Linked DNA regions of Homo sapiens. The protein of the gene in region 1 interacts with the protein of each later gene in a biochemical or structural test. Each region holds a gene or a part of one and is shown in the gene's direction. Other genes may lie near its edges.

The links. The genes of interacting proteins can lie anywhere in the genome.
Region 2: of the proteins of CLK1 (region 1) and CFAP251, one has a biochemical effect on the other in vitro, tested with the Homo sapiens proteins (one large-scale study listed by BioGRID).

Annotation. Positions count from the first base shown.
Region 1 is NC_000002.12:200,854,659-200,858,158, reverse strand, and holds part of CLK1 (dual specificity protein kinase CLK1), read left to right. Parts: intron 1-69; coding exon 70-186; intron 187-274; coding exon 275-441; intron 442-1,173; coding exon 1,174-1,268; intron 1,269-1,347; coding exon 1,348-1,477; intron 1,478-3,072; coding exon 3,073-3,155; intron 3,156-3,463; coding exon 3,464-3,500. UniProt on the Homo sapiens protein: Dual specificity kinase acting on both serine/threonine and tyrosine-containing substrates.
Region 2 is NC_000012.12:121,925,092-121,928,591, forward strand, and holds part of CFAP251 (cilia- and flagella-associated protein 251), read left to right. Parts: intron 1-3,500.

The DNA of each region.
Region 1 (3,500 bases):
GAAGACAGTAATACCTGGAATTGAGCATCATGTCTGTCATTCTTAAATTTGCATGCATCTTTCTAACAGGGGAGGTAGACATGTAGCAGTAAAAATAGTTAAAAATGTGGATAGATACTGTGAAGCTGCTCGCTCAGAAATACAAGTTCTGGAACATCTGAATACAACAGACCCCAACAGTACTTTGTAAGTATCAGATTAGAACTTGGGAAGTGGTATCAGGTATATTTAAATTAGGAGCAACTATACTTAGCTATTTTTCATGTGTTTGTAGCCGCTGTGTCCAGATGTTGGAATGGTTTGAGCATCATGGTCACATTTGCATTGTTTTTGAACTATTGGGACTTAGTACTTACGACTTCATTAAAGAAAATGGTTTTCTACCATTTCGACTGGATCATATCAGAAAGATGGCATATCAGATATGCAAGTCTGTGAATTGTAAGTTCTTGGTATATCTTCGTTAATTTGCTGGTTTTATCCATTCCACATATCAAAATGTGCATCCTAAGTGTGTACAATTTTTATTTGATTAAAAATAAAGGGGGAGGAAGAATAGGTATGAAGAGATTTGATTACAGGCTGTTGATCCAGCAGTGTACATTTCATTCAGCAAGTAGGATATCCACCATATAACAACGTACTTTGTTGCAGACTATGATTTAGACTTTTCTGATGCGCAAAAATAGTAACTTCGAATGCTGGGTAAAAATTAAGGCGTGATATATCTCATAAAAGAAAGCTTCATAAGAGGTAGTAAGTTTTAGTTACTGGTGATTTTCTAGCAGACTGGAATGTTGACCATTCTTTGGGAAAGGAATCAGAGGTTTTTTGTTGGGTTTTTTTGTTTTTTGAAATGGAGTCTCGCTTTGTTGTTCAGGCTGAAGTGCAGTGGCGCAGTCTTCACTCACTGCAAACTCTGCCTCCCCAGTTCAAGTGATTCTCCTGCCTCAGCCTCCCGAGTAGCTAGGACTACAGGCACACGCCACCACACCCGGCCAATTTTTGTAATTTTGGTAGAGACAGGGTTTCACCATATTGGTCAGGCTGGTCTCGAACTCCTGACCTCAGGTGATTACAGGCGTGAGCCACTGCACCCGGCCTGTTGTGGGGTTTTGTGATTTGGTTTGGTTTGGTGTTTTCTGATTACAGCAACTTTCTCTTTATTCTCAGTTTTGCACAGTAATAAGTTGACTCACACAGACTTAAAGCCTGAAAACATCTTATTTGTGCAGTCTGACTACACAGAGGCGTATAATCCCAAAATAGTAAGTCTTCCAAAATATTCATAAAGTATCTTATGCCTTAATAGCTTATGCCTTCTTAACCATCATTTATGATTTTCAGAAACGTGATGAACGCACCTTAATAAATCCAGATATTAAAGTTGTAGACTTTGGTAGTGCAACATATGATGACGAACATCACAGTACATTGGTATCTACAAGACATTATAGAGCACCTGAAGTTATTTTAGGTGAGTATTAATTGTCCTTTGAGAACCTTTGTATTTCCTTATTGAGACTTAAAATTTTTTTAGCAGTTTTAGGTCTTACTTGTGGGGCTTTATCATATTCTCTTTAAGGGATAAGTATCATGAAGTGCATTATGGATTTTAAGCTCTCAATTGTACCAGATAATTAGCTCTGGGAATTTGAGCAAGTGGCTTAACCTTTCTGGAATTGTTTTCACATTTGTAATATGTGGTAGGGTTTTTAAATGTAATTGTTTAATGCCAGGTGGGGCGCGGTGGCTCACATCTGTAATCTCAGCACTTTGGGAGGCCAAGGGTGGGGCGCGGTGGCTCACATCTGTAATCCCAGCACTTTGGGAGGCCAAGGCGGGCAGACCACATGGTCAGGAAATCGAGACCATCCTGGCTAATATGGTGAAACCCCATCTCTACTAAAAATACAAAAAATTAGCTGGGTGTGGTGGTACACGTCAGTAGTTCCAGCTACTCAGGAGGCTGAGGCAGAATTGCTTGAACACCGGGAGGCGGAGGTTGCAGTGAGCCAAGATTGCGCCACTGCACTCCGGCCTGGGCGACAGAGCGAGACTCCATCTCAGAAAATTGTTTAATGCCTATTTTATTCCAGACTATATATAACACTATATAATTTATTTATTTTTATCATTTATTTATTTTTTAGACGGAGACTTACTCTGTCGCCCAGGCTGGAGTGCAGTGGTGCAATCTTGGCTCACTGCAACTTCTGCCTCCTGGGTTCAAGCAATTCTCCTGCCTCAGCCTCCTGAGTAGCTGGGATTATAGGCACCCACCACCACACCCGGTTAATTTTCTTATTTTTGGTAGAGATGGGGTTTTTACCATGTTGGCAGGCTGGTCTCAAACTGCTGACCTGGAGCAATCTGCCTGCCTTGGCTTTGCAAAGTGCTGGGATTACAGGCATAAGCCACTGCGCCCGGCCATATATATTGTATTTAACCTTGGATTAAGTGATTGCTTTAGGATCTTCCAGCTCAAACATCACATTGCATATATATGTGTATATATATAATTTTTTGGGGGGGGGGCGGAGTCTTGCTCTGTCACCCAGGCTAGAGTGCAGTGGCGCGATCTCGGCTCACCGCAAGCTCCGCCTATGGGGTTCACTCCATTGTCCCACCTCAGCCTCCTGAGTAGCTGGGACTACAGGTGCCTGCCACCATGCCTGGCTAATTTTGTTTTTGTATTTTTAGTAGAGACGGAGTTTCACCGTGTAGTCAGGATGGTCTTGATCTCCTGCCCTCGTGTTCCACCTGCCTCAGCCTCCCAAAGGGCTGGGATTATGCCTGTAGCGTGAGCCACTGTGCCCGGCCAATTCAGATATATATATATCTTAATAGAGGTGGGATCTCGCTGTGTTGCCCAGGCTGGTCTTGAACTCCTGAGCTCAAGCAGTTCTCCCATCTTGGCCTCCCAAAGTGCTGGGATTACAGGTGTGAGCCACTGTGCCCAGCCTACATTACATGTGTTTTTTTTTTTAAAGTATTAGTGTTAACTAACTTTTTAATTTCTTTAACAAACATTGAGTATTTTTTTTCCTTAAATTTTGCTTTGCTTTGCAGCCCTAGGGTGGTCCCAACCATGTGATGTCTGGAGCATAGGATGCATTCTTATTGAATACTATCTTGGGTTTACCGTATTTCCAGTAAGTGACAATGATCTATTTCAACCTTGCTTTGCACAAGAAAGGTGCCTGTTTATATGAATAAATACTTTTGCTTCCCCCATTATAGACTATTAATTGTAGATAAGCATAAATAAACTAATTCATATTTCTTTCATAATTGTTTTATTTAAAACATCTTTCAGTATATAAGCAATTATCCGTGTCCATGTAGGGAATCATTGGCGAGTTTGTTCTGCAAGCCTTAATGTTAGTTTTTTTGCTGTCAGCTTTAACTGTGTCTGTTTTGGTGGTCATCTTCCCCAAGTCTGTTTTTATTTTATTTCTAGACACACGATAGTAAGGAGCATTTAGCAATGATGGAAA
Region 2 (3,500 bases), on another chromosome or scaffold:
TCACCTCTTCTGCCTTTATCTTTACATGACCCCAAAACCATCCATTCCAAGAGGGTCCCAGAGTGGAAGGTAATGGAGGAGTGAAAGCCGCAGTGAAAAGCCCCAGGCAGTCCAGAGGAATCTGCCTTTGCCACTGCTGAAAATATTCCAGGGAGGCACCATCTGCGAGGAGTAAAAATATTATCATTTACCAGGAGAAGGAAAAGGAGGAGTTTTTTCCTTCTTCCTCCATCTGCTACTTTCTGAAAATTGTTTCCTAGGATTCATCCTTCCTGTAGATTCATGCCTTTGGAAGATGTGGAAGCGATTGAATGGATATCAAATACTTAATGTAGTTCCTAAGACATAGTGAGTACTCAGTAAGTGTCCGCAACTGTGTGTCATGACGATGACGGTGGCAAGACGTCTGGAGGGAAATGCAGGCAACTGGAAACCTCCTTTCTGCATATGGGCTTCATTTGAGCCCCGTGTGACAGCCTCTCTCCCACAGCTTGCAACTGTTCACTCCGAGAGAAAGAATAATTGAGCTTTAGGGCTCACAAAGACTCTTGTCTTGTTTAGCCAGCAAACATAAATCAGGCAATGTCTCTAAGAAGGTGTATTCTTTGTGTCAGGGGCACAGCTATCTGGACTTGGCAAGAGCCACTCCCCCAAGTTTTGGGTCTCGCTTAGCCTTGGTCTCACTGCGGAACCAAAACGGCAGAACCAAAAATTTTCTAGACTGTCTTCCTTTACAAATTACTTTAGCTTTTATTTATTTATTTATTTTTTGAGGTGGAGTCTTGCTCTGTCACCTAGGCTGGAGTGCAGTGGCGTGATCTTGGATCACTGCAACCTCCACCTCCTGGGTTCAAGTGATTCTCCTGCCTCAGCCTCCCGAGTAGCTGGGACTACAGGCATGCACCACCACGCCCAGCTAATTTTTTGTAATTTTTTTTTTTTTTTTTTTTTTTTTAGTAGAGACGGAGTTTCACCGTGTTAGCCCGGATGGTCTTGATCTCCTGACCATGCAATCTGCCCGCCTAGGCCTCCCAGAGTGCTGGGATTACAGGCGTGAGCCACCATGCCCGGCCTTTTTTAAGAGACAGAGCCCTGCTGTGTTGCCCAGGCTGGACTAGAACTCAATCCTCCCACTTCAGCCTCCTGACATTTCTTTAGCTTATTGCATGTATCTTCTTTCTTCTTTCTTTTTCCTTCACTTTCTTTTTCTTTCTCTCTTTCTCCTTTATTATTTTTTTCTTTTTGTTTATTTTGAGACAGGCTCTCACTCTATCACCCAGACTGGAGTGCAGTGGTGCGATCATGGTTCACTGCAACCTCCGTCTCCTGGGTTCAATGGATCTTCCCACCTCAGCCTCCCCAGTATCTGGGACTACAGGTGTGTATCACCACACCCAGCTAATTTTAAAAATCTTTTTTAGAGATGGGGTCTCACTATGTCTCTCAGGCTGGCCTTGAACTCCTAAGCTCAAGCAATCCTCCCGCCTCGGCCTCCCAAAGTGTTGAGATTATAGGTGTGAGCTACCGTACCCGGCCTCAATTTTTTCTTTTTGTTAAAACTATTCAGTGTTGGCCGGGCGCGGTGGCTCACACCTGTAATCCCAGCACTTTGGGAGCCCAAGGTGGGTGGATCACCTGAGGTCAGGAGTTCAAGACCAGCCTGATCAACATGGTGAAACCCCTCTCCACTAAAAATACAAAATCAGCCGGGCGTGGTGGTGCATGCCTGTAATCCCAGCTACTTAGGAGACTGAGCCAGGAGAATCGCTTGAACCCAGGAAGGCAGAAGTTGCAGTGAGCCAAGATTGCGCCATTGCACTTCAGCCTGGGTAATAGAGTGAGACTCTGTTTCAAACAAACAAACAAACAAAAACTATTCAGGATTATTTGTAAAAAATTCAGACAACTTATACATGTTTGAAGGCAAAGATTCTTCTTCCTACACACACCCCCACCCAATCTCATTTCCCTATGTAATTCCTGCCACAGTTGGCTGTGACTGCTCCTCTCCTGACCTTGTTCTGTGCATGTACAACATGTTATCTGTGTGCCCATGCCTGTGCACATGGCTCACATTTAGTTTTTGTGTTGTTTAGGTTTTTTTTTTTTTTTACCGGTGAGATAATCCTGCATTTCTACAAAATGTTTTTCCACTTAATATGTCTTGGAAGGTTTCTTGTATCAGTGCATGTATCTCTACTTCCTCTTTTTGTTTTTCTTTTTTTGAGATGGAGTCTCACTCTCACCCAGGCTGGAGTGCAGTGGTGCTATCTTGGCTCTCTGCAACCTCTGCCTCCCTGGGTTCAAGTGATTCTCCTGCCTCAGCCTCTCATGTAGCTGGGATTATAGGCACGCACCACCATACCCAGCTAACTTTTGTATTTTTGTAGACACAGGGTTTCGCCATGTAGGCCAGGCTGGTCTCGAGCTCCTGACCTCAGGTGATCCACCCACCTCAGCCTCCCAAAGTGTTGGAATTTCAGGCATGAGCCACCGTGCCCAGCCCACTTCCTCTTTTTAAATGTAACTGTTCCCCTTTCTGTGGCCATTTAGGTTGCTTCTAATTTCTTGCTGTCACACAAGGTCCTACAGTGAACGTGCTCCTCCATCTCTCCTGTGTCCACAGCATCCTCCTTTTCCTTTGGGGTCCTCTCCTTAGTGCTAAGGCCTGTACTAGCTCCCATTGTTCACGGTAAATAGACATGACTGTGGATCCCACCTCCAGCTAGGAAACAAGGCAATCATGTATTTATGAGCAGGAATCTTATGAATATCAAATACAATGAAATCTGGTTTTGACAGCAAAGTTTTATTTTCCAGATTAATATGTTTTAGAAAAAGATTGATGTAAGCAGTGGCTATCTCCATAATCATCTGTCATGCATGTTAAAACTTCTGCAAAACACGATGATTAATACTATTTGATTTCCACAATTGTGAACGCTGCTCGAGTGGGGTTGTTCTGTTACCACTAAGTGAAGTCAGCCTCGTGGTGACCCGGGAAGAGCTGTTGTGGCTGAAGACAGGAGTCCTTTTAGGAATGCTTTCTTTTTGTCACTAATTTGTTAAATGGCAAAATAAATTTCCAGGAAGATGATCCTTTTAGGATTAGCAAGTTTCCAAAAGAACAATTTCATTTGAATAAATCAGCTTTTAAGAAACAGCCAAATATTAAATAATTCTGTTCCTAGAAGTTGCAGCTTGAGACAATTATGATTCCATAATTCTACCACTCACACCCACACAATAAGAGATCTAAATATAAATATAAATTATAGGGAATGAGCAGATGGAAACAGGAGAGGATGGGGAATTAAGAATGTAGGAGAGAGAAATTGGCCACATTACCTGCTATGTCTGTCTTGGGGAGAAACAATTTAATTTTATAAGTATTGTTCAAAGATAAGAAAGGAAACTTACCAGATTTTGTTTCTATATGCCAATTTAATTCACTGATTCTTAGCAACGCAACGCATCACTTTCAGCACTCTACTGCATTT